Homo sapiens: one gene and its partners. The protein of the gene in region 6 purifies or fractionates together with the protein of the main gene of each other region. This does not show direct contact. Each region holds a gene or a part of one and is shown on either strand. Other genes may lie near its edges.

Region 1 (4,410 bases), on a different chromosome or scaffold from region 6:
AATTAGCCAGGTGTGGTGGCACATGCCTGTAATCCCAGCTACTTGGGAGGCTGAGGCAGGAGAATCGCTTGGACCCAGGAGTCGGAGGTTGCGGTGAGCCAAGATCGCGCCATTGCACTCCAGCCTGGGCAACAAGAGCAAAACTCTGTCTCAAAAAAAAAAAAAAAAAAAAAAAAAGGAACAAAGAAACTGTAAGTGAACACTTCTCATGGGTATACATTCACCTGCTACAGTGCTACAGGCTGGAGTACAGTGGCGTGATCTCAATCACTGCAACTTCCGCCTTCCAGGTTCAAGCAATTCTCGTGCCTCAGCCTCCCGAGTAGCTGGGATTACAGGCATGTGATACCATAACACCCAGCTAAGGTCTTGTATTTTTAGCAGAGATGGGGTTTCATTATGTTAGCCAGGCTGGTCTTGAACTCCTGACCTCAAGTGACCCACCCGCCTCAGCCTCCCAAAGTGCTGGAATTACAGGCGTGAGCCACCACACCTGACCATATATTTCAAATGTACCTACCATTAAATTTGGATTGTCACTGCCTTAATTACTTTCCTCCTAGTCTTCTGTTATTAATCCTGTAAGCTTTCACAAGTCTGACCCACCCTTTTCCAAGACACCAAGGATTTCTTGATGCCCATACTGTTCCTCATAAACAAAAACCATAAATTCTTACAATTGTCATACGCAACAAAGACACAGGCCCAACAAAAATATGAACTGTATTTTTTGAAAACCTAGCCTTTTTGGGGTTTTTAAGAGACAGGCTCTCATTCTGTCACCCAGGCCAGAGTATGGTGGCACAATCATAGCTCACTGCAGCTGCAAACTTCTGGGCTCAAGCAATCCTCCCGCCTCAGATTCCCAAAGTGCTGCACTACAGGTATGAACCACCAAGCCAAGCCTATACAATATTTTTAATAACGGTGCACGTAAAACAAAGTTTTGACTGTAATTTGTCACATGAGCCTGGGCAACAAAGTGAGACTCCGTCTCAAAAAAATAAATAAATAAAAAGAAATTATTCAGTCAGGTGCGGTGGCTCACGCCTATAATCCCAGCACTTCAGGAGGCTGAGGTGGGTGGATCACCTGAGCTCGGGAGTTCGAGACCAGCCTGACCAACATGGAGAAACCCTGCCTCTACTAAAAATACAAAATTAGCCAGGTGTGGTGGCGCATGCCTGTAATCCCAGCTACTGGGGAGGCTGAGGCAGGAGAATCACTTGAACCCAGGAGGTGGAAGTTGCGGTGAGCCGAGATCGTGCCATTGCACTCCAACCTGGGCAACAAGAGCGAAACTCCGTCTCAAAAAAAAAAAAAAATTATTCACAAAATGAGAACTACTAATATAATTCTAGAAGATGCAGTTATTTCTTTATACTAATAATATCAGAACTATGTCCAGACAAATGCATAGCAGATCCCCAATTCTTGCACCTCCCATTAACTGTTCTCTCCTAGGCCTGGCAGCTTTCAATGTCCTCGCAAAGGTTTAAGCAAAAGCCTTAGCTTTGCCACTAGCATTCCTACAAAGTGTTAAAAGCACACTTCAGGCCGGGCGTAGCAGCTCACAACTGTAATCCCAGCACTTTGGGAGGCCGAGGCAGGCGAATCACCTGAGGTCAGGAGTCCAAGACCAGCCTGGCCAACATGGTGAAACCCTGTCTCTACAAAAAAACAAAAATTAGCCGGGCATGATGGCGGGTGGCTATAATCCAGCTAGTTGGGAGGTTGAGGCAGAAGAATCGCTTGAACCTGGGAGGCGGAGGTGGTAGTGAGCTGAAATCAGGACACTGCACTCCAGCCTGGGAGACACAGCAAGACTCTCTCAAAACGAAAAACGCACACTTCACTCCCTTTGCCTTCCTGAGCTAAAGAAGAGTAGCCAAACCGCCCCAAAGAGAAATCTCATCCAGGTTACTCTAGCCGGAAGATCAATGGAGGTAACTAATGTACCAACCAAGAAACTAAGGAAAGATAGGTCAGGCGCGGTGGCTCATGCCTGTAATCCCAGCACTTCGGGAGGCCGAGGCGGGCAGATCACCTGAGGTTAGGAGTTCGAGAGTGGCCTGGCCAACATGACAGAACCCTGTATCTACTAAAAATACAAAAATTATCCAGGCGTGGTAGCCGATGCCTGTAATCCCAGCTACTTGGGAGGCTGAGGTAGGAGAATCCCTTGAATCCAGGAGGCAGAGGTTGCAGTGAGCCAAGATCACACCATTGCACTCCAGCTTGGGCGACAGAGCGAGACTCCATCTCAAAAAAATAAATTAATTAATTAATTAAGGAAAGATAAAATGAGGGATAACCCACAGAATTTAGGGTGCCTGCTCCTTTTTATCCTCAAACTTAGCATAGATTTAGTTGCTAAAAATGCCCCCCAAAATCAATCTGTGAAAAAAGGATCAAGTGTTCTCTAGAACTGAACATTCTACCATTGTTAGAGAAACCTATTCTTAAAGTTTTTAAGCTCAACTGTCTCTACATGAATTGGTGGGGTTGAGGGTAGGAACTAGCCCATAAAGACAGAACTATAAATATTAACATCTTCAGGCTACTGAAAACTCAAAGTGGAACCAGCCTGCTCAGCTAGGTAGGGTCAGAGAAGTAACGAGTGATATTTGTCTTGGAAGGGACATGAACAAACCTCAAGGGAAGAGCATGAAGTAGGTAAAAATTCTAGCCACAATAAATCTGAGATAAGACTACCAATACCAAAGACTTCCACACTCCATCCTCTTCTCTGCCCTCAGAGTATTTTCATTCAATGGCCCCAAAGCACGAGATGTTTGTCCAAAGAGAAACATCCCCAGAAAAAACATCTCAACATCTCTCAATGAGTACCTTAGAAAACCAGGTTTTCCTAGTGAAAACCCATCCCACCCTTCCAAGGACAACTAATCACGATGAAAAATTCATGGAAAGAGTTCAAGGAAAAAACTCCTCCTTACCTACTCAGTCAATAAATCTGTTGTGCACTTTACTGAACATCAAGTGCTGTGCTAAGTGCTGAGGATACGGAAATTAATAAAACAAAAATGTGGCTGGGCACAGAGGCTCACGCCTACAATCCCAGCACTTTGGGAGGCCGAGGCAGGAGGATCACCAGGTCAGGAGTTCAAGACCAGCCTGACCAACACGGTGAAACACCATCTCTACTAAAAATACAAAAATTAGTTGGACGTGGTGGCGCGTGCCTGTAATCCTAGCTACTCAGGAGGCTGAGGCAGGACAATCACTTGAACCCGGGAGGTGGAGGTTGCAGTGAGCTGACATCGTGCCACTGCACTCCAGCCTGGGCGACAGACAGAGGTTCTGTCTCAAAAAAAATAAATAAATAATAATAAAATAAAATAAATAAAACAAAAATGCCTGCTCTCCTGAAGCTTTTTTTTTTTTGAGACAAAGTCTCAGTCTGTTGCCCAGGCTGGAGTGCAGTGGCACGATCTCAGCTCACTGCAACCTCAGCCTCCCAGGTTCAAGCCACTCTCCTGCCTCAGCCTCCCAAGTAGCTGGGACTACAGGCGTGTACCACCACACCCAGCTAATTTTTGTATTTTTAGTAGAGATGGGGTTTCACCATGTTGGCCAGGCTGGTCTCGAACTTCTAACCTCTGGTGATGCCCCGTCCTTGGCCTCCCAAAGTGCTGGGACTATAGGTGTGAGCCACTGCGCCTGGCCCTGAAGCTTTCTACTAGGGGAGATTAAAATATATAATACGTTATAGGTTGATAAGGGTTAAGGCAGAAAATAAAGCAGAAAAGGGGGATAGAGAGTTATGTAAATGTGTATGCAGGAGGGGCTTTGCCATCCAGATAGCCAAGGGAATATCAGTGTTAAGAGTGACATTTGGGCCAGGCGCAGTGGCTCACACCTGTAATCCCTACACTTTGGGATTACACTTTGGGAGGTGGAGGTGGGTGGATCACTTAGGGTCAGGAGTTGAAGACCAGCCTGGCCAACATATAGTGAAACCCTGTGTGTACTAAAAATACAAAAAAATTAGCCAGGCATGGTGGCAGGCACCTGTAATCCCAGCTACTCAGGGGGCTGAGGCAGGAGAATCGCTTGAACCCAGGAGGTAGAGGTTGCAGTGAGCCGAGATCATGCCACTGCACTCCAGCCTGGGTGACAGAGCGAGACTCCATCTCAAAAAAAAAAAAGAGTGAAATTTGAGTAAAGACCTGAAGGAGATGAGGGGACAGACAGGCTATGCTCTTACACAGCTTTGTAAGAGAAAAGTAACTCAGGAAGAGGAAACAAGAGCATAGACCCTGAGGCAGAAGTGTGCCTAGTGTGCTCAAGGAACAGCCAGAGGCCAGTGTGCATGTTAGGGGAAAAGGGTGCCACAGATCTAGAGCTTTAAAGCTAAGATTGGTTTGGCTGGGCGCGGTGGCTCATGCC
Region 2 (4,410 bases), on a different chromosome or scaffold from region 6:
TCAGCCATTTTGCTACACAGATTTGGTAAGGCAGGAAATAAAACAAGTTAGTTTTACTTCTAAGTGACGAGGAATACGAACAGTCAAAAATGGCTTCTGATCAAAGACTAAACTTTTTGGCCATGATTTATATTTGGCTCAAGGCTTTTCTGTATGAAAACTGTTATTACTTTTACAATGATTTAGAAAGGTACAAGAGCCAGGCATGGTGGTGTGCGCTTGTAGTCTCAGCTACCCAGGAGGTTCAGGAGGCCGAGGCAGGAAGATCTCATCATGAGCCCAGGAGTCTGAGGCCAGCCTGGGCAACATAGCAAGACCTTGTCTCAAAAAAAAAAAAAAAAAAAAAAAGGGAAAAGGAAAAGAAAGGTACAAGGTACAACTACAGGATCATGAGAATTGTTTTTAATAGGCATTTAAAAACTCAGGCATACAAGTAAGTGATAGGCTTGAAATTTGTTCTCATGGAAGAAAATAATAATTCCATCAATACTAAAACCATTGCTTAAAACCATTTTCTTTTGACATTCCATTTAAATCTAATCTACAAGCCATTTCAGAAAATGTTTCACTATTTTTATCAAGACAGTAATAATCAGTTTGATCTCTTCTCCATCATTTACCATTTACTCCAAATGACTTATGACTATTTTCCAAGTTCAGTCTACCTTCAAAAAACAAAAGATTTTTCCAGCACTGCAGATAAAATGAGGAAGGTTCTTAATGCAATTTCAAATGATAGATTTCAATTAAGTTTTAAGCAATAGTGGCATATTGGAATAAATGCAGTCATCCCACAGTATCCAGGACACCCACATATACCAAAATCCACACATACTCAAATCCCACCTAATTGGCTCTCCATATCTGGGTTTTACATCCTGAAAACACTGTATTTTCAATCCACCTTTCGTTGTAGAGGTGGAACCCCAGGATACAGCCAACTGTATTTATTGAAAAAAAATTCATGCGTAAATGAACCCGTGCAGCTCAAACTCATGTTGTTCAAAGGTCAACTGTACTAAACTTCTCAAAGTAACCACTCTGAAGGGGAAAATATGTTATCACATATTTTTTTTTTCCGATTTATCAGTTTCCTTACCTTAGAGTCACATCCTTGTTATTAAAATTTTATAGCCAATCAGACAGCAACAAAACAATCTAAACACAGAGAAGTCCCGCTGCCCCACTTCAAAGGCTGTCAGTTTGCCCAGGATATCTGGCTAACATGGTAGGTTGCAAACAAGAAGATTCCAAGTCCAAAAGAATCCCTGAGATCCAAACTAATCCCTAACTAGTTACTCTTCACAATGGAAAGTAAAGACACCTAAAGTCTCATGGTCCAAACCAAAGTATCAGGTCACAAAAGAGAAATCTAGCTGGGTGCAATGGCTCGCCTATAATCCCAGCACTTTGGGAAGCGAAGGCACGAGGATCGCTTGAGGCTAGGAGTTTAAGACCAACCTGGGCAACACAGCAAGGACCTGTCTCTACAAAAAATATTTTTTTTAAGTTAGCCAGGGGTGGTGGTGCATGCCTCTGGTCCTAGCTACTCAGGAGGCTAAGGCAGGAGGATTGCTGGAGTCCAGGAGTTTAAGGCTGCAGTGAGCTATGATGGCATCACATCACTCCAGCCTGGGTGACAGGACATGACCCTGTCTCTTAAAAAAAAGATATAAATCCCCTTGGTAACACCAGGCAATATTCAGGTTAGGAGCCATACATCACATGTTACAGGTACTTCAGCCTTGTCTTATACCACAAGAGAACATTTGTTCTGAAACCGATCAACCTCTGGAATTGAGCAATTCATGGGATAAGAGAGCAAAGGTCACCTATTTTTTTCAGCCAAAACTGGCACTCACATGGTTATGATATCACTGGTTGCTCTGAGCAAACCTAAAAAAGGTACCGAAAAATTCACAGACTTCATTGACACCAGTGAGCTAGAGTTGCCTTTATGCAGTGAGTTCTCAGAGTCAAAGTGAAAAGACGTTTTTTAAAATATGCTCCCCATCCCCTTAGGATTCCAATTCTTCAGAGGATATAGAGGTTACAGCCTGGATGTGTGTATTCTAAAAACCTCCCCCAAAGGATTCTGCTTTTCCCTCCAAGACCTAGAATATCACATGCCCAGAAACCTATTCCACCCTATTACGTGATGAGCCCCATTCAGAACACCATCTTGCATGACTAGGGCCATATCACTGTGTCCATTTCTCCAGAGTAATGTTACATTATTTACTATCCCACCTATACTCACATCCCATTCTTGTTTCACTGAAGTTTTCTTCTTCTTTACTTTCGGTGTCTTTCTTACACCAACTCGGGGACCACAGCGGTTCACTCTGACAAATGACATCTAGGAATAATAATCACATCAAATTTTTAAAATACAAGAAAAAACAATAAGCATCACCAGAGTGGGGGAAGACACCTGAAAAAAAAAACAAATTTTAAAATGCCAGAAGAAAAATTTAAGCATGATGAAAGGAACAGCCTATCAAAATACTTAGTTCTTTTATTTTACAACTAATAAATGTTGGTACTGATAATTATAATAAAAGAGGTCTCAAGTCAATAACTTATATATTTGATTAAAAAAGAACTCTAGGAATGCAGAAATTATGGCCTAAAGCCGAGAACTAAGACATTCGTCATAAGCTTTGTCATCAGTTACACAAATTTACAATTAGTAGAAAATAGCCCAGTCACAAGCTAACAATATGAATGTAAGGTGAAGGGAAGAAAGGGCAAAAGAGAGTTGGAGTTCTTTTTTAAGCACTCTAACACTCAAAATCACTACCAGGTACATATGGGCTTACTTGAAAATAAAAGTAGCTAAACTTTAGAGAACAAATGAGGTATGATATCACTTCTAATATATCTGTCACATAATGCTAAATGGTGCTAATTATTGATTTTTTTCTATTGCTGATAAACAAATTAATAATTATTGATTTTAAACTAGAATTTTTAAATTGCCAACATTAGTTTGCCACTGTTTAAACAGCAATGCTAAGCACACTAGACTACACATTACACCAAATTAGAAAAAGACCCATAGTCCCCGAACACCAGGATTTTACAATACATATATATGACTTTTAAAAAGCAATACATATACATGACTACTATTGCAGACACTTTTAACCTACCTAAATAATTACAGGACTTTCCAGCTGACCCCCTTACTCCCAATTAGTCTAAAACAAGGACTCTAGTATTTTCCTTAAGTACTTTTTTTTAAAAAAAAATCATTGTCTACTATAATAAAAATGTCTAAATACAAGTATTTCTTAAGAGTTTGCCCTCAATCTTCCTTGCACTCTGTACTCTCTCTTAACAAGAACATTCACTCCTTAAACATGGTATCTAATTTCAGCATTTACAATTTCAGCCAAAGAAAACAAGTCACATACAAGTTAGAAAATAACATTTAAGTTTTATGATGGTAATGATGATGATAGCCACGGTGGTAATGATGGCATCAGCTAACAGATACCGTGTGCTTACTATAAGCCAGATGCTATTCTAAGCTCTTTAAACATTATTTTCTTGAATCCTCACAATAACCCCATGAGGTACTTACTATTTATTCCTCATTTTACAAACGAGAAAACTGAGAGACAAAAGTTAACCAACCATGAAGGTCACACAATTAGTAAGTAGCAGAGCCATAAGTACCATTTAAAAAGATACAGAATATAATAGAACAAAGAGTCTAAAACAAACCCTTACATTTATGGTCAGTTTTTCAACATGGGTGCCAAGACAATTCAACGGGGAAAGAATAGTCTTTTCAACAGATGGTGCTGGGACAACTGGATACGCATATGAAAAAGAATGAAGTTGGACTCCTACCTCACACCATATTCAAAAATTAAATTGATTCATGGATTTAAATATAAGAGCTAAAACTACAAAATTCTTAGAAGAAAACATAAGAGTAAATCTTCGTGAGCCGTGGGTTAAGCAATGGTTTCTTAGAAATGACACAAAAAGCACAAGCAACCAAAGAAAAAAATAAATTGGACGTAATCAAAATTAAGAATTTTTGTGCTTCGAAGGCACAATCAAGAAAATGAAGACAACCAATAGAATGGGAGAAAGTATCTGCAAATCCTCTATCTGATAAAGGACTTGAATCCAGACTATATAAAGAAATTTTACAACTCGACAATTTAAAAAATCCGATTTAAAAATGGGCATAGGACTTGAATAGACATTCCTCCAAGGAAGATACTATAGACAGCTAATAAACACATGAAAAGATGTTCAACATAATTAGTCATTAGGGAAATGCCAATCAAGATACCACCTCACACCGACTAGGATGGCTATAATCAAAAAGACGGACAACAACAAGCACTGACAAAAATATGGAAAAACTAGAATCCTCACATATTGCTC
Region 3 (4,410 bases), on a different chromosome or scaffold from region 6:
CCAAGGCTCTAAACTGGCCCGTGTTAAAGGAAATGAAGGAAAAAGGTGCAATGTCACACATGAGGAAGGATCTTCAAAGTTCTCTCAGTAGGTTTAATTTTACTTATATTCAATTTCCTCCCTCCTCCCACCTACAGCCTCTTAGGTTTAATTTTGGACCCAAGTAGATAATCTTGACCTTTAATTCTACGGAGATTCAGAATTTAGTTATTATTATAGAATACCTTTTACACTGGCCCACTTCTAGGAAAAATTTGGTCAAACTGATTCATCTTCCCCCAAGGCAGACTTTAAAAAGGACTCTTGTTGTGTGTAGTTCTTCCCAATTCCTTTCCTTCATTACGAAAACTGAGTTGGCTAGGATTGTATTTATCCTCACTAGGAGCTCTAGAACAGAGGTGGTAGTACCCCTATTAGATTTCTCTCCTTTGTAAAAGACAGAAACCATAACCTCCCCTTACAACCAAGGCTGATCTAGACACCACAGTCCCTCAAGAGGAGGAAATCCATAGTACCACCTGCCTTATGCTAAGCTTCAGCCACCCACAAGAATTTCCTGACTTAGGAGTTAGTTGAAACCTTGTAAACCCTTTTCCCTATCTCTCTTGGGCGGCACAACAGGCCATCATAAAGCAATATGGTATAAAGGGAACAACACTGGACTATGGGTAACAAAAAGTAGGGATCTTGTCAAACATAAACTATATAAACGTTTCATCCATTTCCATGGAGCAACCAAAATGATCTTTTCAAAACATAATCATTTTATTTCACTTCTTTGCTTAAATTTCTCAATGGCTTCCTCAAGTACTTTAAATAAAATTCAAACTCTTTACCATAATCTATAAGGTCATTTATGTTCTCATCCCTGTTTTTTTCCAATCTCATCTCCTACTAGACCCTTTGCTCATTATGCTTCATTAACACTGGCCTTTTTTTTTTTTCTTTGAGACGGAGTCTTGCTCTGTCGCCCAGGCTGGAGTGCAGTGGCACTATCTCGGCTCACTGCAAGTTTGGCCTCCCAGGTTCACGCCATTCTCCTGCCTCAGCCTCCCGAGTAGCTGGGACCACAGGCGCCTGCCACCATGCCCAGCTAATTTTTTTGTATTTTTAGTAGAGACGAGGTTTCACCGTGTTAGCCAGGATGGTCTCCATCTCCTGACCTGTGATCCACCTGCCTCGGCCTCCCAAAGTGCTGGGATTACAGGCGTGAGCCATTGCGCCTGGCCAACACTGGCCTCTTTTATGTTCCTCAGACATGCTAAACTCTTTCCCATTTCAGACTGTGTACAGCTAGTCTCTCTATCCAAAATGATCTTTCCCCAGTTCTTCACATGGTTGGCTCAAGCTGCCTCCTTCTTATCTTTCAAAACAAATCAAATGTCACCTCATCAAAAAGATCTCCCAACCAACCTGTCTAAAAGTAGTCATGACTGCACATATATCCATTCACCCTTTCACTCACTAGTATATCACTGAGTTTCTTTCTTTCTTAGCACTCAAATCATCTTATTTAATAACAAAAATATTATTATCATTATAGCTAATACCTAGATATGCTTTCTCTGTACAGGCACTGGTTAACTTATTTAAACCTCACAACCATTAAACCTAATGTTTTTATATACAAAGAAATTGTGACACAAAAGGTCACACAGCTAGTATAAAGAGCTGAGGTTCATACCCAAGCATTCCAGCTACAGAGCTCACACTCTTAACTACTATGCTATACTCCCTTTCTGTTCATTTAATTCTTTATTGTTGGTCATATAAGCAACTGAAACTGAAATCTTATCCATCTGATGAACAAGTGTCTGATGTGTAGATAGCAGTCGATGATATTTATCACCTAACTCTGCCTGCATAGTAAGAACAGTGGGATTTTCTTTCTTTCTTTTTTTTTTTTAACACTCCTCTCAGCTCATACCTAAGGGATTTTCCACTTATATCTTTAGTAAGGTAACGAGTATTGCTGAATATCTAATAAATGGTCCTTCTTTGCTTGTCTAAATTCTTTAGATATAATTATTAACCCAGTCCTTTCTCCCTTTAAAAGTTACTCCAACTTACACTGCTGTCCCTGATTCTAATCATATATACATATATGATAGCAATATACTACTGAAATGGCATTAAGATGGAAAAAAAAGAATCTTCCAATATTACAAGAATCTCTGAGGTCCAAAAAATTTACAACATTCTACTCTTGTGTCTTGGGATTGGCTTGACTTCTAACTACAAGATAGCAAATTGCAGATACGGGATAACCACCATTGAGTACCCATAACTAGAAAATTGGGGAAATAAGCATATTTTTCTTTAGTAATTATGGATGGCAGAGCATCAAAACAGAAGGCAGGATAGGGTAGTGTGAAGAAACAGGCTTTAGAGTTAAACAAATCTAGAGTTACACTGCAACTTTACTATTTAACAGGAAGGAAGAACCCTGAAGAGTCTGAGAGTCTGTTTTCTTATCCAGAAAATAAGGAATGATAATTCTTACTTCAAGAAGTGTTGTGTACATTAAGTATGGTAAGTTAAATGACTGACACATAGTACAAGCCATCAAACCAAGTTCCAAGCATAATAACTTCCCCCCATTCCAAATAAGTACCTTAGTTATCCTACACTAAATTTTAGCTTAAGTTTAATTCAAAAAAACTTATTTAAGCACCAGGCAGTAATATCAATATGAATGACAACTAACATGTATTGAGTACTTATATGCTAGATACAGTTCTAAGCACTTCACCTGTTATAGCTCATTTAACTCTCACAATCTATACGATGTACAGTACCTCAGTTTTACAGATAGAAAAGTAATTGACATAAGGACATACAATCTAAGTAATTCACTGGAAAACATATTACATAGAAAATTATAAAGCCAGGATTAAATGCTAGGTGGTCTGATTCCAGGCCCCATGCTCTTATCACAAAGCTATATTTTTTCTTTGGCGGCAGACAGACAAGTAAGGCGTTTTCCCTTGCCTTCAGGGAGCTCTAGTTCTGTTTTATATGAATTTTATTAAGTCATTCCAAATCACCCCAACTTCAAATTTTATTTTGCTTTGCTTATTGCTACAGTCAACCAAGCACTAACAGAGGTTTCTTATTACATAATCAAGTCCCATAACCAAATTTTACATATACTTTCACCAAACAAGCAGTTTCCATGAATAGAAGAGGAAAAAAAAAGGTATCTAAAGTGTATGGGTAGATTCTAGGCAGAGTAAATAAAGCTCAGTAAAAGTTTCCCTACTCTGTGGTGGCAACAAAAGAACTATTTCTCCCTTCTGAAGGAATTATTAATGATTGTCCCTACTATCCCAATTATAAGTACGGCTATACATAGTTGTACTTGCAAGTCTTAAGGAGGAAATTCAACTAAATTTTAACTTTATAAAGTCCATTCTATAGAAACAGATTTACCTTTTACTTGTGTAAGATCAATCCCTTTCTCTACTGCCAACTTCTTTGCAAGAGGGCTAACAAACACCCTTCCCTTTGGTCCAGCAGGAGTAGCTGGGCAGGGTGCTGAAGGTGTAGGAGCTAAAGGCTGGGGAGTTGGAGGAACAGCGGCCACCTTTTGAAAAAAAATTACAAATTGTTTTAATTCACCACTTCAAAGACTGGTCTGAAAGATTAAAAGTTTACATCTTATTAATAAATTAAAACTATTTTAATTAAATATTAATAACTTTCATTTTTCCAAAGATCATAATGTACTTTTCGCCAGCTTAACCAACATAATGTAGTAATACGAACAGCGAGAACAATATACTTCTATATCAAAGACAGAACAGTTACCTTATTCCATAACAACATGAAGCACAGAATTGAATATTGCCAATCAGTGTATAGTATTCTACAGCCTTTCTTCACTTTAATCTCTTACCACTTCTTTATTCGCATTCTTTTACATCACCAACATGATTTTTATTTTTAATTATCCTAACTTCTTTTTTTTTTTTCTTTTTATTTGAGACAGAGTCTTGCTCTGTCACCCAGGCTGGAGTGCAGTGGCGCAAACTTGGCTCACTGCAACCTCCGCCTCCTGGGTTCAAGCAATTCTCCTGCCTCAGCCTCCCAAGTAGCTGGGATTAAAGGCACGCACCACCACGCCCAGCTAATTTTTTGTATTTTCAGTAGAGATGGGGTTTCACCATGTTGGCCAGGCTGGTCTTGAACTCCTGACCTCAAGCGATCCACCTGCCTCAGCCTCCCAAAGTGCTGGGATTACTGGCATGAGCCACCACACCCAGCCAGCTAATTTCAAAATATAAAATTATGCTGTAAGGCCCCATGTTGAAAAGTATCTTAAGAAATACGGCCAGGTGTGGTGGCTCACACCTGTAATCCCAGCACTTTGGGAGGCCGAGGTGGGTGGATCACCTGAGGTCAGGAGTT
Region 4 (4,547 bases), on a different chromosome or scaffold from region 6:
CTTTTTTGTTAATACAGGATTATTTTAAGTTAAATGAAGCAGAACCCCACTGTTGCTAGTAGAGTTGAAGCTTAAGGGTACATAGTCAGAAGAAAACTACAGATTATTTTCCTTATTACCATAAAACAGTGAAACTTGTTCTGTGATTGATAACTTTTCCTTTATAATGTTAACATTTTTTATTGTGATAAGCTATACATAACATAGAACTTACCACCTTTTTCTTATTTGAGACACGGTCTTATTCTGTCCCCCAGGCTGGTGTGCAGTGGTGCGAATCATAGCTCACTACAGCCTGGAAGTCCTGGGCTCAAGTGATCCTCCCGCCTCAGCTTCCTGAGTAGCTAGGACTACAGACCCACACCACCACACACGGCTAATTTTACCTTTTTAAATTTTTTGCTGAGACAGAGGTCTCACTATGTTGCCTAGGCTGGTCTTGAACTCCTGGCTTCAAGAGATCATCCAGCCTCAGCCTCCCAAAGTGTTGGGATTACAGGCGTGAGCCACCACACCCAGCCCAGAACTTACCATCTTAACCATTGCTACATGTACAGTTCAGTGGCATTGAGTACATTCACGCTGTTGTGCAAGCATCACCACCATCCATCTCCAGAAGTTTTTCATCTTTCCACCTGAAACTTTGTACCCATGAAACAATGCCTCCCCATTCCATCTTCGTCGCTAGCCCCTGGCAACCTCCCTTCCACTTTGTGTCTCTGCATTTGACTACTCTAGGTACTTCACATAAGTGGAATCATAGTATTTGTCCTTTTATGTCTGGTTTATTTCACTTAGCATAATGACTTCAAGATTCACCCATGTTGCAGCACATATCAGAATGTCCTTCCTTTTTAAGGCCAAATAATATTCCATTGGATGGATAGATCACCTTTTATCTTGATTGATCATTTTAACTTATTTTTCAGTTTCAACCTACAACGTTTATGAGGACAAACTGCAAACTTAATTGCTTTTTAAATAAAATTGATGGCAGGCCAAATCCCTGCTTGCTGTTGTGAATACCTCTACACTGCAAGAATTCCTGGAACAGTGAGTGGGACACCTTTATTCAGACAAATCAGATACTTTGTAATGGAAATCAAGGTGGTATATTACTGTTTTGCTTTGTATTTTGAAGCATCCCTGGGTTCACTGCTGGGATTGCTCCAATCATCGGCTTCAGGCGTGGTCTTGTAATGGCGCCATGCGGACTTATTAAAAACTGGAAGTCTCTCAAATGACTCACTTGAAAGAGCCTATTGGAGAAACAAAAATATACACCAAAGGTCGACAGTGTCATTTTTCTCAAGTGAAATAGTAACCCAAATTTTATTATTTAAAACATCAGAAACCTTAATACATATTTTCAAAATGATATTAAAATTACACCTTAGTAGTTTACTTAGACTGGCCAGGAAAACATTAAAGCTTTTTTAAAGGAATGAAAACATTTGCTCATTCAAAATCAGAACTGAAATACACATGACCAGAACAAAACATATTTTAATTCAGCTCATACTGCTTTGAGATGCTCAACTGTTTTGACTATACCTGGTGACTGGTCTCACAAAGGGCCCAGGAAGAGATACAGTCTCATGCATCCCAGGTTTATAAACACACACCATCAAGTATATTAAATATCGCATTACTTAGATGCATGGGCATCTAAGATAAATACTCCCAGTAACTGGTTAAATTCTGGTATCACATACATAGGTTGAGTATCCCTTTGAAATGCCTGGGAACAGGCCGGGCACAGTGGCTCACACCTGTAATCCCAGCACTTTGGGAGGCTGAGGCAGGTGGATCACCTGAGGTCAGGAGTTCGAGACCAGCCTGGCCAACATGGTGAAACCCTGTCTCTACTAAAAATACAAAAAATTAGCCGGGTGTGGTGGCTCACACCTGTAATCCCAGCTACTCAGGAGGCTGAGGCAGGAGCATGGCTTGAACCCAGGAGGCAGAGGTTGCAGTGAGCCGAGATGGCAGTACTGCACTCCAGCCTGGGTGACAGAGTGAGACTCTATCTCAAAAAAAAAAAAAAAGAAAAAGAAAGAAACAAAAAAAAAGAAAAGAAAGAAAGAAATGCTTGGGACCAGAAGTAGTTCTGATTTTTTCCGATTTTGGAATATTTGCATTGTGCTTACCTGTTAAGCATCCCTAATCTGAAAATCTGAAATCTGGGGTGCTCCAATAAGCATTTCCTTTAAGCTTGACCTTTGAGCAAGCATCACGTTGGCGCTCAAAAAGTTCCAGATTTTCAACCATTTTGGATTGCAGATTCTTGGGTTAGGGATGCTTGACCCACAGTGGCATGTTATGCCACTGTTTAAAAGAATGAGCCAGTTCTACATAAATGGATCTGGAAAGATCTCTAAGACAGATTGCAAAGTAAAAAAAATAAGAAGGTGCTGAAATTTCATTTATGTGGGAAAAATTCTATTTTTCCCATATTTATAAATGTAGAATCAACTCTAGGAGGATCCATAAGACGCTGAGACCGGTGGTGATCTTCGCTGAACAGAACTGGCGGTTTAGGGCCAGTGGGAGGAGAGACTTCATTTTTCCTTTTGTAGCTTTTAAATTTTTATTATGTGCCTATATTACCTATTCAAAAAAATGTTACAAATATTCTAGAGTTTAGAAATAAAAGCCCAATGATCACCAATGAATAAGAAAAACTGTGTTACAGAGAAGTTTGTTATTAAATGAATCTTTTACATAACCATATTATGATTACTGAATTCTTGTAGCTTTGGGAAAGCCAGTGAGTTTTTAAAACAAAAGACCAAAATACTTCAGTTTATGAAAATCTGCCTTCTTTTAGATCAGACCTTTCAATAGGCATGTAGTTTTTTAAGTCACAATTTAAAATTATGGTTTTAAAAATCAGTATTTTAATTTTTTTTTTTCTCTTTTGAGATGGAGTCTCATTCTGTCGCCCAGGCTGGAGTGCAGTGGCACCATCTTGGCTCACTGCAACCTCTGCCTCCCGGGTTCAAATGACTCTCCTGCCTCAGCCTCCTGAGTAGCTGGGACTACAGGCGTGCACCACCACATCAGCTAATTTTTTGTACTTTTAGTAGACATGGGGTTTCACCATGTTGGCCAGGCTGGTCTCGAACTCCTGACCTCAGGTGATCCACCCACCTCAGCCTCCCAAAGTCCTGAGATTACAGGCATGTGCCACCACGCCCGGCCAAAATCAGTATTTTAATTTCTATACCTCCACGTTTCATATTTTGCTTTATCTGAGCATAGAATCAAGCGTGAGGCATAACATGGTTTTCATGGGAAAATGAAGTAAATCTGAGATGAATCTAAGAGATGATACAGTGCTGTTCTCAATCAGCGATTAGAACTTACAGCTTTAAAAAGCAAAGATGCCTCATACTAACAAATAAAACGCAGTACCTTCAAATAAATGACAGCATCAGTACCCACTCCTTCCATGGAATACAGTTTCAGATCTCCTTGAAAATATCTAGCATACAGACGGGAAATTGGCAAACCATAACCAAATCCAGCCTATTGAGAAAAGAAAATTAATACAGTGAGACAGGCACAAATGCTAACACATTTTATATGATGACCATTCAGAGAAGGTTAAAATAAATTCTTGATTCAGATTTAAATCAAATAAATTACTGACTCAACCTTTACAATGATGTATATCCTCTTCTATGGCAAACAACCCCTTTATTTTCACCCTGCAAAAACATGTCTTATATGTTTGGATAATAATAGAAATATTCTAATTTTTGACTAATGCTTTTTTAGCATTTTAAAGCAAAATTTTATCATTTTTTTAAAAGCACATTCCAAGGCCGGGCACAGTGGCTCACGCCTGTAATCCCAGCACTTTGGGAGGCTGAGGCAGGTGGATCACTTGAGGTCAGGAATTCATGATCAGCCTGGCCAACATGGCGAAACCCCATCTCTACTACAAAAATTAGCTGGGCGAGGTGGTGGGAGACTGTAGTCCCAGCTACTCAGGAGGCTGAGGCAGGAGAATCGCCTGAACCCAGGAGGTGGAGGTTGCAGTGAGCTGAGATGGCGCCACTGCACTCCAGCCTGGGCGACAGAGCAAGACTCCATCTCCACACACACACACACACACACACACACACACACAAAAGCACATTCCAAATCAAGTGGAATGTGACCTGATGACAAAACTAAACCACATCATTTCAAAGTCCCATGATCAGATTTCCTTGCTTTTGCAAGTGAAAATCAATAGCGCAGTGCTGAGTACAAATCTACCAGTAACAAGACGAGAACATGGAAAGGAAAACAATTTTCTGAGAGGCAACTACTAAGGTTCCGGGAATGTGAGAATATTTTGGTATATTGTAGTTCAGGTATTTTTAGAGATTAAAAAAATTTTCAGTACCCTCCTATATCTCTATGTCAAGGAATCCTGACTGTCAATAACAGGTGTTCTATGGACAAGAACAGTAAGAATCAAAACTAAATGTAATACCATTTGTGGTGGTAGTGGGGCAGGGTGGGGAAGGAGATGTAACACCAAGCTTCCTCAC
Region 5 (4,410 bases), on a different chromosome or scaffold from region 6:
TCTAAAGCCTTTTCCTACATTGTTTTTGTCATTTCTAGCCTTTTGTTTCTAAGTAAACTCTCCAGTGAAGTATGGGATACATATAAGAGGGCACAAATCATAAATGTATAGCTCAATTATTACAAAGTGCACATCCCACCAACAAGACGAGAACATGACCAGTACACCAGAGGTCCCCCCTTATGCCCTTCTCAGTCACCAACCCCACAGTAGTAACAACTATTCTAACTCTGTAACCATCGAAGTTAGAGCAGAAGCAACCATTGATAAATACCATGCCATGCCATCTTCTAAGGGCACTATGCACCCCTGTTATTAAGAGGAGCTCTTTGTTCTGTCTTTGGTGTGTGGTGCATTCATGAAAGTCTGCAGCACATCGGCAAAAAGTGGGTTTTTCCTGTGTTTGAACTTATATAAATGTAATCATATGGCATAAACTCTTGTGTTTTGTTTTCTTAAAGCCAACATTGTTTGTGAGATTCATCTGTGCTGTGTGTAGCGCTACTTCATCCTTGTGGTATATAGTATCCCATTGAATGAATATAGCACAATTTATCCATTCTATCATTATGAACATTTGGGTTATTTCTAGTTTGGAACTATTAAGACTAGTACTACTTTGAACATTTTTGTACACTTTGTACATGCCTTTTGGTATGCATATGTATGTATTAATATTTGTGTTGGGAAATACCAAACAGGAATTTTTGAGTCATAAGCTATACCACCTTCAGCTTTAAAAGATATCGTCGTGTAGTTTTCCAAAGTGATTGTACCATGTTACGCTTCTGCCAGTTGTGTGTGAGAGAGGTTTTTGCTCCGCATCCCTGCCATCACTTGATGTTGTCAGTCTTATCACTTTAGCCATTCTAACTGGGTGTATAGGAGCATCTTATTTAATTGGATTGAGTACCTTTTCATTTATTTCTTTAACTTTTTGCTTAGATTAATGTTATTACCTGATATGTAAAATAGAGGCTTTACAAGGCAGGTCTGGGTCACAGTCACTATTGCACATGCACATTGCTGTTGCCATACTCTTCTTTTGTGTTAATGAAGTCCAGGAGTCTCTTAACATTGGAGGAAGATGTTTTAAGACCTTCCTGAGTACCACCATAGTTTATAGTTTCTCCACATTAAATGAATTAAAGCATAACTGGAACTTGAAAGCTTATGTTAAAGTCCTTATTGAGAGTTATGTGAGAGAACTACAAAGCTGATTTCACAATTAGATACTGGGCAGTTAACTGGGCTCACCTTCCGGCTAAAATGACTTTGCTTCTGTATTCTCATCTGTCTGACTGTAAATTACTACATGTCATTATCTTTAGGTTCTCTTGTGAATAATCTAAACCTTCAGTGTTAAACCCTTGATATTAATAAGACTTCTTGAGCACTTATAACTGTTCCAGCCACTCTGCAGAGTGTTTTACATGCTTTGTCTCATTTAATTCTCTTAACTTTCATTGACAATTCCAGTCATCCAGACCTTCTTATTCTTTTTCCTGTACTTTACTGTTTTCTGTTTTCTTTTTCTGTCTGTCCAGCTTAGAAGCTATTGTCACTCCACTGTCTCTCCAGTGTCCCAGTTTTCTTGACCCTCTGTCCCTTTTTCATGTCCATCTGGCAAACTTGAGTATTGATGACTGATTACCTTCTTTGTGCAAGGCTCCAAGCACAGCTGGAAAATATCTCACTGGGCAACTTCTGCCAAGTAAGTGCTTGGCCACTAATTTCCACTAGACTATCAGTGCCCGTGAGCAATCTTTTTGTTTTACTATTTTCCTCCAATCTGAGTCCTTTCTCTAGATCCTCACTTTCAGCAGATCACCTTCTTTTGACACCATAGATAAATAGAAGTCATTAGTCTAGAACTGTCTACCTTTTCACTTTCTACCACCAGATCTATAAACCTATTTTGACACTTTCCCTTTTCTCTTCTTATCCTGCTACAATGGAGATGCTGCTGCTTTTTCTAAGGCCAGTACTTCTACCTAGGCTTTGGCTTCCTGGATGCTGGGCTTCTCAGAAGTATTATACTGTTGGTTATTCCATCTTTGTTGAGCATCTTTAACTTTTCTTCTTTGCTGGATTCTTGCTATTAGCACTTAAGCTTGTTTTAACCTCTCCAGCTTTTGAACCAAACAACCAGCAAACCCATTCTTAATCTCAACATACCCCTCTAAATACTTCTCTCCCCCCATTAAGATGAAAAGCTGAGTAAATTCACTACATTTTCTTTTGTTTTTTTTTTAATTTTATTATTATTATACTTTAAGTTTTAGGGTACATGTGCACAATGTGCAGGTTTGTTACATATGTATACATGTGCCATATTGGTGTGCTGCACCCATTAACTCGTCATTTAGTATTAGGTATATCTCCTAATGCTATCCCTCCCCCCTCCCCCCACCCCACAACAGTCCCCAAAGTGTGATGTTCCCCTTCCTGTGTCCGTGTGTTCTCATTGTTCAAGTCCCACCTATGAGTGAGAACATGCGGTTCACTACATTTTCTTACTTACTATTTATTTATTACTCTAGTTCAATTTGGCTTCCAAGTTCATTCATTGAAATGAATACTTATTGACAACCCACTGTATGCTAAACATTTTGCTAGATTCTGGGGTTGCAATGATAAGCAAACCCTGACAGTCCCAATCCTCTTGTGGTTTATAGGCTAGTAGAAAAGCAAGACATTAGTCAAGTAATCACACAAATAAATGTAATATTGCAACAGTGGTAGGTATTACACAGGAGAATAACATGGTACAACGAGGGCATATGGGTGGGTAATTTGACCATCAGGAAGTTTTCTCTAAGGAAATGGTCATTGAGAGCTGAAATAAGAGTAGGTGTTAACTAGGTAAAGAGAAAAGGGAAGAGTGACTCAAGTAGAGGGAACAACATATTCAGAGGCTCTGAGTTGGAGACCTACTTTATTATAGAATGGCAAGTTCGAGACTGATTAAAGGTCAGTGTAATTGGAGCACAGAACATAAGGCGGACGATGGTTCTAGATGAAACTGGCGAAGTAGCTAGAGACCTGCCCATGCATAGCTTCATAAGTCAAGTTAGGTGATTTGCCCTTATTCTAAAATCTGTGTATGCATGTTTGTGTGCATGTGCATGCATGTTTGTAGAGATGGTATGTTTTCTTCTTTAAAAAAGATGACTTGGCCTGGCACAATGGCTCACACATGTAATCCCAGCACTTTGGGAGGCTGAGACAGGTGGATCACCTGAGGTCAGGAGTTTGAGACCAGTCTGGCTAACATGGTGAAACTCCATCTTTACTAAAAATACAAAAAATTAGCCAGGCATAGTCGCACGTGCCTGTAGTCCAAGCTACTCAGAAGACTGAGGCAGGAGAATTGGTTGAACCCGGGAGGCAGAGGTTGTGGTGAGCCAAGATTGCACCATTGCACTCCAGCCTGGAGACAGAGTGAGACTCCGTCTCAAAAAAAAAAAAAAAAAAAAAAAAAAGACTTACTGCTTTGTGGTAAATGAATTAAAGAGTTTTCAGAGTGCTTGCTGGCAGACCAAATAGGAAGCTGTAGTGGTCCAGTGAGACATGATGGTCCTTTGGACTGAGGTGATGACAGTGGCAGCCATAAGCAACATCAATGAAGAAAAAGTGATAGATTAAAAAGATAATAAAATCAACAGGACTTGGTGATGATAACTGCCATATGTGGTTGTGATAACTAAATTAGGTAACCAAATTAAGATAACTTAAAATACGACCTGATAACAAGTAACATCTCAGTAAGTGTTAGCTATTTGTATTGTGATGCTGGTACATGATTGGATGTTGAGGGATTCAGCATAAGGTGTCACTTATGATCTCTAGGGTTCTGGAATGCATAACTAAATGGATGATGACACTATTCACTGAGAAAGGAGGTATTGGAAAAGGATCAAAGCATTGGGGAAAGGATTATAATTTGTGTTTTAGATGTGTTTAATTTGTGATATCATTGTGACACTGAAGTATATATGACAAATTGACAGGTCTGGAAAGTTGTGGGTTAGATGTATATATTTGTGAATTATCTGCATATAGAAGATAACTTCTTCATTGAAGCTGTGAAGAGTCAAGAGTCCAGAGTCCAGAATAAAGGATAGAAAATGGGCCTATGGAGGAGATAACAAAGGAATCACCAGAAGAATAGGAGAAAAATGAGAGTTTCGAAAATTGGGAAGAAATTGTTTCTCCTTCCCAGCAAGTCAGGATGGCCAAATGGTCTAAAGCACTGTATTCACAGGAGGACTGCAACTTTTGAAGCTGGTAAAAGATCAGAATAAGATTAAAACTAAAAATACTTATAGTAGGACATAGCAACACAGAGTGGTTTGTTGACTGTAGTAAGACTTATTTTGATGGGCAGACAAATGGGAATCAGATTAA
Region 6 (4,410 bases):
CACTGGACACTACTTCTCCACTCTCTGCTACACATAATGTCTCTGTACTCTTCCCTCAGGATGTGGCACATGGGCTCTGCCTGAAAGTCCTCCCTCTCTGCTACTTCCCTCCCTATCACTAGCTACCTCCAATTCCACCAGGAGCCTAAGACTGTCATTTCTTTAATCCTGCAAGAAGACCCCCTTTCTCGGTGCCCTACACATCCCCCTGCCACATGGCTACACCATCAGGCATTTCCCAGCATCTGCTGCCTGCTCTGCTGCTCAAGGGGCTGGGCGAGAAGACAGCCCAGTTCTGTTGGGATCACAGTTTTGTCCTCAGTGCGTAGCACAGGTTCTAGAACACAGCTACAACACCATACTTTGTGTGATTTTTTTGGAGACAGGGTCTCACCCTGTTGCCCAGGGTAGAGTGCCATGGCACAATCATACCTCACTGTAGTATCAAATTCCTAGGCTCAAATGATCCTACCACCTCAGCTTCCCGAGTAGCTGGGACTACAAGTGCGTGCACCACCATGCCCAGCTAATTTTAAAACTTTTTGTAGCGATGAGGGTCTCCCTATATTGTCCAACTCAAACTTTTGGGCTCAAGTGATCCTCCGACCGTGGCCTCCCAAAGTGCTGGGATTACAGGGGTAAGCCACGGCATCTAGCCTAGCACCAAGCTTGTTGCAGGGACAGGGAAGGCATCTGAGTAGGAGGAAGGCAGTGTACCATCTGTCCCAGATTTAATGATGGTTTGACATGATTGTTTGAATTTACAATGGTGTGAAGCAATACACTTTCAGGAGAAAGTGGTGTGATAGTCTCTCACAATGCTGGGCAGTGGCAGTGAGCCTCAGCTCTCCGGCAGCCACACCATCCCCAGGGTAAAGAACGGATACTCGGCTGGGTGTGGTGGCTCACGCCTATCAACTCAGCACTTTGGGAGGCTGAGGTGGGAAGACTGCATGAGTCCAGGAGTTCGAGACCAGCCTGGGCAACACGGTGAACTAGGGGACAAGACATAGCTGGATGCAAGGACAAAGCGGGGGGTGCAGGTCCCCCACACCTAAGCTTGGGCAGGGGAAGGGAGAGGCACAATTACTTGCGGGTGTTCTCATTTTTAAGCAGAGACTTGGCCTGCTGCTCACTGATGATGGTGGCCTTCACCTGGGGGGGATTCATGTGCACGTTCAGCTTCCCGCCCACCAGCAGGCGTACGGTGGCTGCAAACTTGGTCTGGGTCTTCAGGACCTGAGGAGGCTGCTTCTCAATGATGAATGTGCTGCATGGGACACAGGGACAGACACACGATGAGGGGTTGGCGCAGGGGAAAGGGCTCTCAGTCCCTCTGTGGTGGGGGTGGGGCTGCCTCCCATGGGGCTCAGGAGGTGATGAGCTCGGGCACAACCTCTGTTCCCGGGGAAGCTGTGAGAGTCCAGGGAGAGGATGGAGAGGGGAGTGAGATAACACAGCAGCTGGCATGGGCTGCGGCCCAGGGTATCTCTTGCAGTGTCCACAGGAGAAACTGGGCAAGGGCGGCACCTAGCAGCCACAGCAACTGGAGATGGAGTTGGGAGGGATGAGAGGCAGGAAGTGGATCTGCTGGTCTGGAAGGCACCTGCAGCTCCCCCCACGCAGGCAGGAGCTGCCCCAAGCTCCTGGGCATGGCAAACAGGCAGCAGTCACCTGGTCACCAGGGCTGAGATAATGTCCGTGATGGTGGCGTTGACCTCGGCCAGCATCTCCTCCACTGGGCCGGGGATGGGCAGCTGCTGGCAGAGGTGCTCAGCCCTGCGGATCTGCTGCCGGTTCTGCCAGATGATCTCGGCCAACTTCTCACACCTGCACGAGAGCCCCAAGGCCAACAGGAGGACAATGGCTTCTCCTCACAGACGCCAGGCCCCAAGACACAGCTCCCGTTCCCCCAGGAAGGCTCTGTGCTTTCGCCACACTTCCCACCCATGGGAAGAGCAGAGCTCCCTGCCTCCCAGAATTAGAGACGTACACAGGAGGGGCGACCCTGACTAGGCCCAAACAGCCCAAGCATCACCCCACACACCCGAGCCCCATCCCACCCCCAGGACAGCAGCCCCCTTCCTGGGGGAGGTGCACAGGATGGGGACCAAAGTCTGATTGAGGAACCAGGCTCCCTGGAGAAACAAGAGCTGTCCCAGGATGGAGGGGGCCTGCTGCAGGAGCCAGCACAGGACGCAGAAGCAGCCGGGGTCCCCACCAGCCCCTCCTGCCCTGCCCGCTGGCCGCCCCACACCATTACCAGGACTGTAGCACGTCCAGGCTGCCCTCGGGGGGCCCGCCGTTCCCGGCCAGCTGCTGCCGCCGCTTCCACTGGATCAGCTCGTCATCCAGGATGATGGTCTGCTGCTTCCGCAGCAGCTGCAGGGTCTTCTGGTGCTTCTCGGCCAGCTCCTGAGGGAAGGGAGGAGAGCAGCCCCTTCTGGGCTCCCAGAGAACACCGCAGGGCCTCGCTGGGAAATGGCAGGGCAGGGCCCAGGCCGTTCCCTCTCCCCAAGCTGCTCTGCCTCGCAAGGCCCCCAGGAAAAAAGGCCTCCTGCCCTCCCAGGTTCTGCTCTCATGCTGGTCCCAGCCCTCCCTCGGGTCCCCAGAGACTGACTTCATGGCACCCACGCCCAGGAGAGGCCCAGGACCCCACTCACCACGCGGTACTGCTGCAGTGTCTGTGCCTCACGCTGCAACCAGGCCTCCAGAGACACCTGCTTCTGCTGGAGGGCCGTCTCCCGGCTCAGACGCTCCTGGGGGCTCAGCTGGGCCAGCTGGGCAAACTGAGCTAGAGGAGAGAAGAGGAAACCATGACCATCACCTCCTAGTGTCCAACAGGAGGCCTAGAGAAGCCCACTCACCTGTTCTGGAGCGAGACCCTCCCAGGCTCAGACACTGCATCAAGAGCAAGTCGGGGTTCCTGACAGCCAGGGGGGCCAAGATGAATGGCGCCTCAGGAGGCGCCTCTGGGCCCTGCTCACCAGCCTCCTGACTCTGAGCCGTCCCCTCTGGGGGCACACGGGTGCTGGGGCAGCTGGGGAGGAGGCCTGCCTGCCTCCTGCCCGCCTGCCTCACAGGGCTGCCAGCCCTCTTCTCGCGTCCCAGCATGGGTCCAGGCTGTCTGGGGTGTAAGTGTGCCCATGCCCTTGACTGCAGGTGAACCTGGGCAAATCGCTTTCCTTTCCTGTGCCTCAGCTTCCCCACGTGTAAAACGGGAGATTCTCAGCACCTGCCTCAGTGGGGTGCTTGAAGATTAAATACATGAGGACATGGAAGATGCCAGAAAGCTGCCTGACATGGGTGAGCTCTGTGTGAGGTTCGTGCTTCTTGGTTAACGGGGAACAGGACAGAGAGAAGAGGTGACAGAGACAAGCAGCTGCTCGGCCCCATCCCTCCCGCAGCAAGGCCTCTTCAGGGAACCCCAGCCCCGGCGGCTCTGTCTCGTCCCTGAGCACAGCAGTCCCTCCTCAGGGGAGGATGAGATTCTTGAGGGGCTGGAAGGGGCCCAGCATGTTTGTCCAGGTGGGCTCACTGTGAGCCCAGCCGACCAACCAGGGGAGACAGACAGATAGACAGACCGCAGAGGGAGAGCGTGTCCAGGGCCACTGGGGATGCAGAGCCACCAAGATTCTCTCAGGAAAGGGAGGCCGAAGGGAGGCGGCTTCCCTCCACACCATCTGTGAGGAGTCTCATTGATGGCGGGACAGGGAATAAGTCAGGCCTCACTAGCTTTTAAAAAGTATCCATCATGGGGCTGGGCGCAGTGGCTCACGCCTGTAATCCCAGCACTTTGGGAGACTGAGGCGGGCAGATCACGAGGTCAGGTGATCGAGACCATCCTGGCTAGAGACCATCCTGGCTAACACAGTGAAACCCCATCTCTACTAAAAACACAAAAAATTAGCCGGGCATGGTGGCGGGTGCCTGTAGTTCCAGCTACTAGGGAGGCTGAGGCAGGAGAATGGCGTGAACCCAGAAGGTGGAGCTTGCAGTGAGCCGAGATTGGGCCACTGCACTCCAGCCTGGGCGACAGAGCTAGACTCTGTCTAAAAAAAAAAAAAAAAAAGTATCCATCATGTGCCAGGCTCGGTGGCTTACGCCTGTAATCCCAGCACTTTGGGAGGCTGAGACAGGCAGATCACTTGAGGTCAAGAGTTCGAGACCAGCCTGGCCAACATGGCAAGACCCTGTCTCTACTAAAAATACAAAAATTAGCTGGGCATGGTGGCGCATGCCTGTAATCCCAGCTACTTAGGAGGCTGAGGCAGGAGAATTGCTTGAACCCGGGGTTAAAGGTTGCAGTGAGCCGAGAGCACCACTGCACTCCAGCCAAGGCAACAGAGCAAGACTCCATCTCAAAAAAAAAAAAGTATCCATTATGAAATACGTAAGACACAGGGGATG
Region 7 (4,410 bases), on a different chromosome or scaffold from region 6:
CGAAAAGCCAGAAGACAATCTTGAGGGTGAACAAAATTGGAAGACTTCATTACCAGCTATCAAGAGTTATAGCTTGGTGGTAGTAAACAAAGGATAGACAAACAGGCCAGTGGAAAAAAAATAGCACAGAACTAGACCAACACATATATAATCACCTTTTCAATGCTATGAAAAAGGAGAAATCAATATTCAATACATGATGCTGTGTAAATTTAGTATCCATATGGGGAAAAAAGAGCACTTGAAACTTCACATTATATACAAAATCCAATTTCAGTTGAATTGTGATCTACATGTGAAAAGTAACGTAAATGCTTTTAGAAGATAACACAGAAGAGTAACTTCATGACTCTGAGATAGGCAAAAATTCCTAACAGAAAATGAACAGTACCAACTACAAAGAAAAATACTGATAAATAGGAATTCATTAAAACTCAGAACTTCCGTTCATTTAAAAAAATCACCGAGAGAGTCCCAAAGGCAAGTCACAGAGTGTGAAAGCTATTTGAAACAATATATATCCTATAAAGGTCTGTATATCCAGAAATAAGAACTATACATCATTTTTTTAAATGGACACCAGATTGCAGTGGGTACTTTATCTCATGAATTACCAGATACCCAAACGGCTGATGAGTGAAAAGTACTCAACATCACTAATTTGCATTTTCCTACAAAGAGTACCACTACACACCCCAAGAATTGTTAAAATTTAAAACCTAACATTATTAAATAGTGGCAAGAATGTGGAGCAATGGGAATTCTCAGGACCGTTGGTGGAGGTGTAAATTTGTATAACCATTTGGAAAATTGTTTGGTAGTAGCTGCTAAAGCTTCTAACTTAGGAATTCTACTTTTAGGTCTATACAACAAAAAATGTACATACATTCACTATAAGACACTAATAAGAATGTTCATAGCACCATAATTTGTAATAGCCCCGAACTGGAAGCAACGCAAATGCCCACCAACAGTAAAATGAATTCTGGTATATTTATACAATAGAATATTATATGCTGCAATAATAAATAAGTGGTTGTTTCACATAGCAATATAATATTACAGACATTAATATTGGGGGTGGGTCAGATACTAAAGAATACATAATATTTATCATTCCATGTTAGTCAATGTCCAACGAACGTTTAGTTCAACACTAATAGGTTCCTACTAGCTTTAATATGAAAGCCTGACTAGTCTGAAGAATTTTTTCAGATATTCTATTGTCTAAATAAAGTATTTTTAGCTTAAATTTTAAAAAATATTTCAGATAAATGAAAGGCTGACAGGGACTTTATAAGTCTTACATCTATCTGTTTGATGCTATGGATAATTAAGAGTTTAAATTTTACCTAAAAGATCCTCCTTGGTATTCTTCAGGCAACAATTTTCCATCTCTTGCTTTCTTTGATAGAGCCTGAGAAAAATACAAACAGAATAGGACAACCAACAAAATGTTATACAGTTGATCTTGTCACTTGAAATATTTGTACATCATATACTCTCATCTCTGATATGCCTTGATTTGATTTTGTTACCTATATAAAAATAATTTTCTCTAATTATAAGAACAAACAAGAGCACAGATAATTCAAGAAACTAAAGCTGTTAATCAAAACTCTAGAAAAATCACTTCCTTTAACAATTTTTCAAATGTGGGAATTACCCTGTGTACCATCAATTATTATGCAAAATGCTTTAGAGTTTCCTATATGCAAAATGAAATTTTCTATTTTGCCTATAAAACTTTATGGTAAGAAAAAAAATACAAGAATCCATTCTGGTCAATCTAGTGTTTTTTAGTTTTTTTTTTTTTTTTTTTTTTGAGAAGTCTCACTCTGTTGCCCTGGCTGGAGTGCAGTGGTGTGATTATGGCCTATTGCAACCTCCATCTCCCAGGTTCAAGCAATTCTCTTGCCTCAGCGTCCTGAGTAGCTGAGATTTCAGGCACCCACCGCCACGCCCAGCTAATTTTTTATATTTTTAGTAGAGATGGGGTTTCACCATGTTGGTCAGGCTGGTCTCCAACTCCTGAACTCAAGTGATCCACCCACCTCGGCCTCCCAAAGTGGTGGGATTACAGGTATGAGCCACCATGCCTGGCCAATCTGTGTGTTTTAAATAAATTATCCAATGGCAACCAAAGTAGTATACCCACAATCCCACAACCAACATTCCGTTTTTATCTTTCAGAGTTTGCTTCATCTTTATCCACAATCTCAACCCCACACAATGGTTATAAAAAATAAATTTTATATTTAATTGTTCAATATTATATGTATCTTCTGTGTTGTCAGCCTTCAGAAATGATTTTTTAATGTTTGTTCCTAAAGACTGCACCTGCCTAATTTACTTGGTTATTTCCCAGTGTTATAATTTGGTTCACGGTTTCTTCTGAATTATTTCAGGTAAATTTTCAGAAGTGGAATTATAGTGCCCTAGAGAATAGACTTCTTTTGGTTCTTGATCCTATAGCTAAATCATTTCCTGAATGAGCTAGTCCAATTTACACTGCCACAAGGAATATAAGGATGTACTTGATTCATATCACTCTTGACCACAGCGATTTCTAAAAATCTTACAGAAGACAAGACAGATGACATATTAGTTAAATTTTCCTCTCACTTGTACTTGGAATTAACCACATTTCTGTTAATTTTTATTTTTCAGTGCTTAAAAGCAAGGGAACAGAGGTTGAGTCATCATATATAAAAAATTAATAACGAATTAACTTAAGAGGAAGGGTACAGAAAAATGAGGTCACTGTCATTTGGGTAGATAAAATAAATGTGGAATTTACTTAATATTTTGTATTACATAGGCAACATAGGCACTATTACAATCACAGTTGATAACTAACTTTAATTCATAGATGATTTAATTTTTTAAAATTGAAAGTCTTTAAAAATATCAAAAATCTAAAAACACATTACTGTAACGTACTGCCAACAGAAACAATTACAGGTGTATGCTATTTGGATGTGGTTATTTATAAAACTATTTGGATTCAAGGTAAAAAATGAGATGAATTTTGACTTATACAGTTCTTGGAATAACGGGAGAGAGAATAATCTATAAAAGCATTTTTCCTCCCTTAAGCAATGTAATTGTTCACATGATTTGAAAAGACACATATATGAACTTTAAAAGGCATTTTTTAAAGGCAGATGATCTCAACATATCCTGATGAACTACCACACAATTACCACAAATGAAAAAAACTCACTTTAATAAGTAGATTGCACGCACACATACTAAAAACAAAAACTCTGTAGATCCTAAATACATCAACAGGAAATTCCTGTCAGTGAACTCTAGTAAGTCTGAAATAGGTATGGAATCTGAGAAGGATCGTTGGTTTTATAAATTTGTAATCATCACTGGGATCTCCTGGCAATGTGGACTCAAAATCAAAGTACATGTTACCTGAAGCATCCAGCTGAAAGAATAAAAAATGACCACTAAATATTTCTACAATACATCGAATGCCTTGCTATTCATTAAAAAAATTTACTGGGTACTTATAAGGTAAACTATGCCTCTGCCTTTTAATACTGTTATAAGTAATGAAGAATTAAGAATAACACAGGATCCAAGGTGTGTCACTACATTACTTTATTCAAGGAATACCAACTTGAACTTGGCTGGGGTATGCCTACAGCCCCCACAGTGGCATCCTTGGGATTACAGAGGGTCAAGAAGTAAATGCGTAGTACAGATATTCTTAACTTGGGGTTCATGGATGAATCTGCAGAGAGCCACAAACTCTTGAAAAATTAATTTCAATGAAACAAGTTTTACTGAAATTTGTTTTAAAATAAATTCACCAAGCAACTACTGTATCCCAAGCACTCTTCTAGAATTAGATAAATGGCAATGGACAGTGAACATCAGACAGTAGGGAACACAGAAGGGTGAACAAATAAATAAACAAGGTAATTTCAAAGACTAATAAACCATATGAAGACAATAAAACAGGGTAATGAGATAAAGAGTGTTAGGAAACTATTTCAGCTACAGAAGCTGCAGAAGGCCTAAGAAATTAGCAACTGAACTGAGAAACCAATGATGAAAAAAAGCCAGCCAAGTGACGATCAGAGGGAAGTGTGTACTGGATAGTATGTCTCTTAGTGAGAATCCAGAGCTCAACCTGTCCATGATCCCACAGTCTTTTCAAAAAGACTACTCCTGCCTCACCAGGTAGAGAGCCTTGGTTTCTTTGCTGCAGGTTCTCTTATCCACTGCCTACTTGCTAAGACCACAACCTCACATTCCTCGGGGAATCTTCACTGCTTCTTTGGCAGAGTACTCTCCCGTTTGACTCAGGTCTCTTCTTTCTTAACCCTTTTTTTCTCCCAGTTGCATACAGTAGTCCCCCCTTATCTGCAGGGGATACTTCAAAGACCCACA

Evidence for each region.
Region 1: the proteins of STAT5A (region 6) and R3HDM2 purify together in Homo sapiens (affinity purification with mass spectrometry, with the first as the bait; one large-scale study listed by BioGRID). This does not show direct contact.
Region 2: the proteins of STAT5A (region 6) and SPICE1 purify together in Homo sapiens (affinity purification with mass spectrometry; one large-scale study listed by BioGRID and IntAct). This does not show direct contact.
Region 3: the proteins of STAT5A (region 6) and DLAT purify together in Homo sapiens (affinity purification with mass spectrometry; 2 studies listed by BioGRID and IntAct, with this or other methods). This does not show direct contact.
Region 4: the proteins of STAT5A (region 6) and PDK3 purify together in Homo sapiens (affinity purification with mass spectrometry; 2 studies listed by BioGRID and IntAct, with this or other methods). This does not show direct contact.
Region 5: the proteins of STAT5A (region 6) and KLHL7 purify together in Homo sapiens (affinity purification with mass spectrometry; 2 studies listed by BioGRID and IntAct, with this or other methods). This does not show direct contact.
Region 7: the proteins of STAT5A (region 6) and PDHX purify together in Homo sapiens (affinity purification with mass spectrometry; 2 studies listed by BioGRID and IntAct, with this or other methods). This does not show direct contact.

Annotation. Positions count from the first base shown.
Region 1 is NC_000012.12:57,423,963-57,428,372, forward strand, and holds part of R3HDM2 (R3H domain-containing protein 2), read right to left. Parts: intron 1-4,410.
Region 2 is NC_000003.12:113,504,247-113,508,656, forward strand, and holds part of SPICE1 (spindle and centriole-associated protein 1), read right to left. Parts: intron 2,360-4,410; coding exon 2,261-2,359; intron 1-2,260.
Region 3 is NC_000011.10:112,038,420-112,042,829, reverse strand, and holds part of DLAT (dihydrolipoyllysine-residue acetyltransferase component of pyruvate dehydrogenase complex, mitochondrial isoform 2 precursor), read right to left. Parts: intron 3,587-4,410; coding exon 3,433-3,586; intron 1-3,432.
Region 4 is NC_000023.11:24,530,641-24,535,187, reverse strand, and holds the end of PDK3 (pyruvate dehydrogenase kinase, isozyme 3 isoform 2 precursor), read right to left. Parts: intron 3,532-4,547; coding exon 3,418-3,531; intron 1,260-3,417; coding exon 1,116-1,259; 3' UTR 766-1,115; downstream 1-765. UniProt on the Homo sapiens protein: Inhibits pyruvate dehydrogenase activity by phosphorylation of the E1 subunit PDHA1, and thereby regulates glucose metabolism and aerobic respiration. Can also phosphorylate PDHA2.
Region 5 is NC_000007.14:23,108,362-23,112,771, forward strand, and holds part of KLHL7 (kelch-like protein 7), read left to right. Parts: intron 1-4,410. UniProt on the Homo sapiens protein: Substrate-specific adapter of a BCR (BTB-CUL3-RBX1) E3 ubiquitin ligase complex. The BCR(KLHL7) complex acts by mediating ubiquitination and subsequent degradation of substrate proteins. Probably mediates 'Lys-48'-linked ubiquitination.
Region 6 is NC_000017.11:42,298,135-42,302,544, reverse strand, and holds part of STAT5A (signal transducer and activator of transcription 5A), read right to left. Parts: intron 2,795-4,410; coding exon 2,664-2,794; intron 2,416-2,663; coding exon 2,264-2,415; intron 1,831-2,263; coding exon 1,675-1,830; intron 1,271-1,674; coding exon 1,091-1,270; intron 1-1,090. UniProt on the Homo sapiens protein: Carries out a dual function: signal transduction and activation of transcription. Mediates cellular responses to the cytokine KITLG/SCF and other growth factors. Mediates cellular responses to ERBB4.
Region 7 is NC_000011.10:34,989,322-34,993,731, reverse strand, and holds part of PDHX (pyruvate dehydrogenase protein X component, mitochondrial isoform 1 precursor), read right to left. Parts: intron 1,418-4,410; coding exon 1,353-1,417; intron 1-1,352.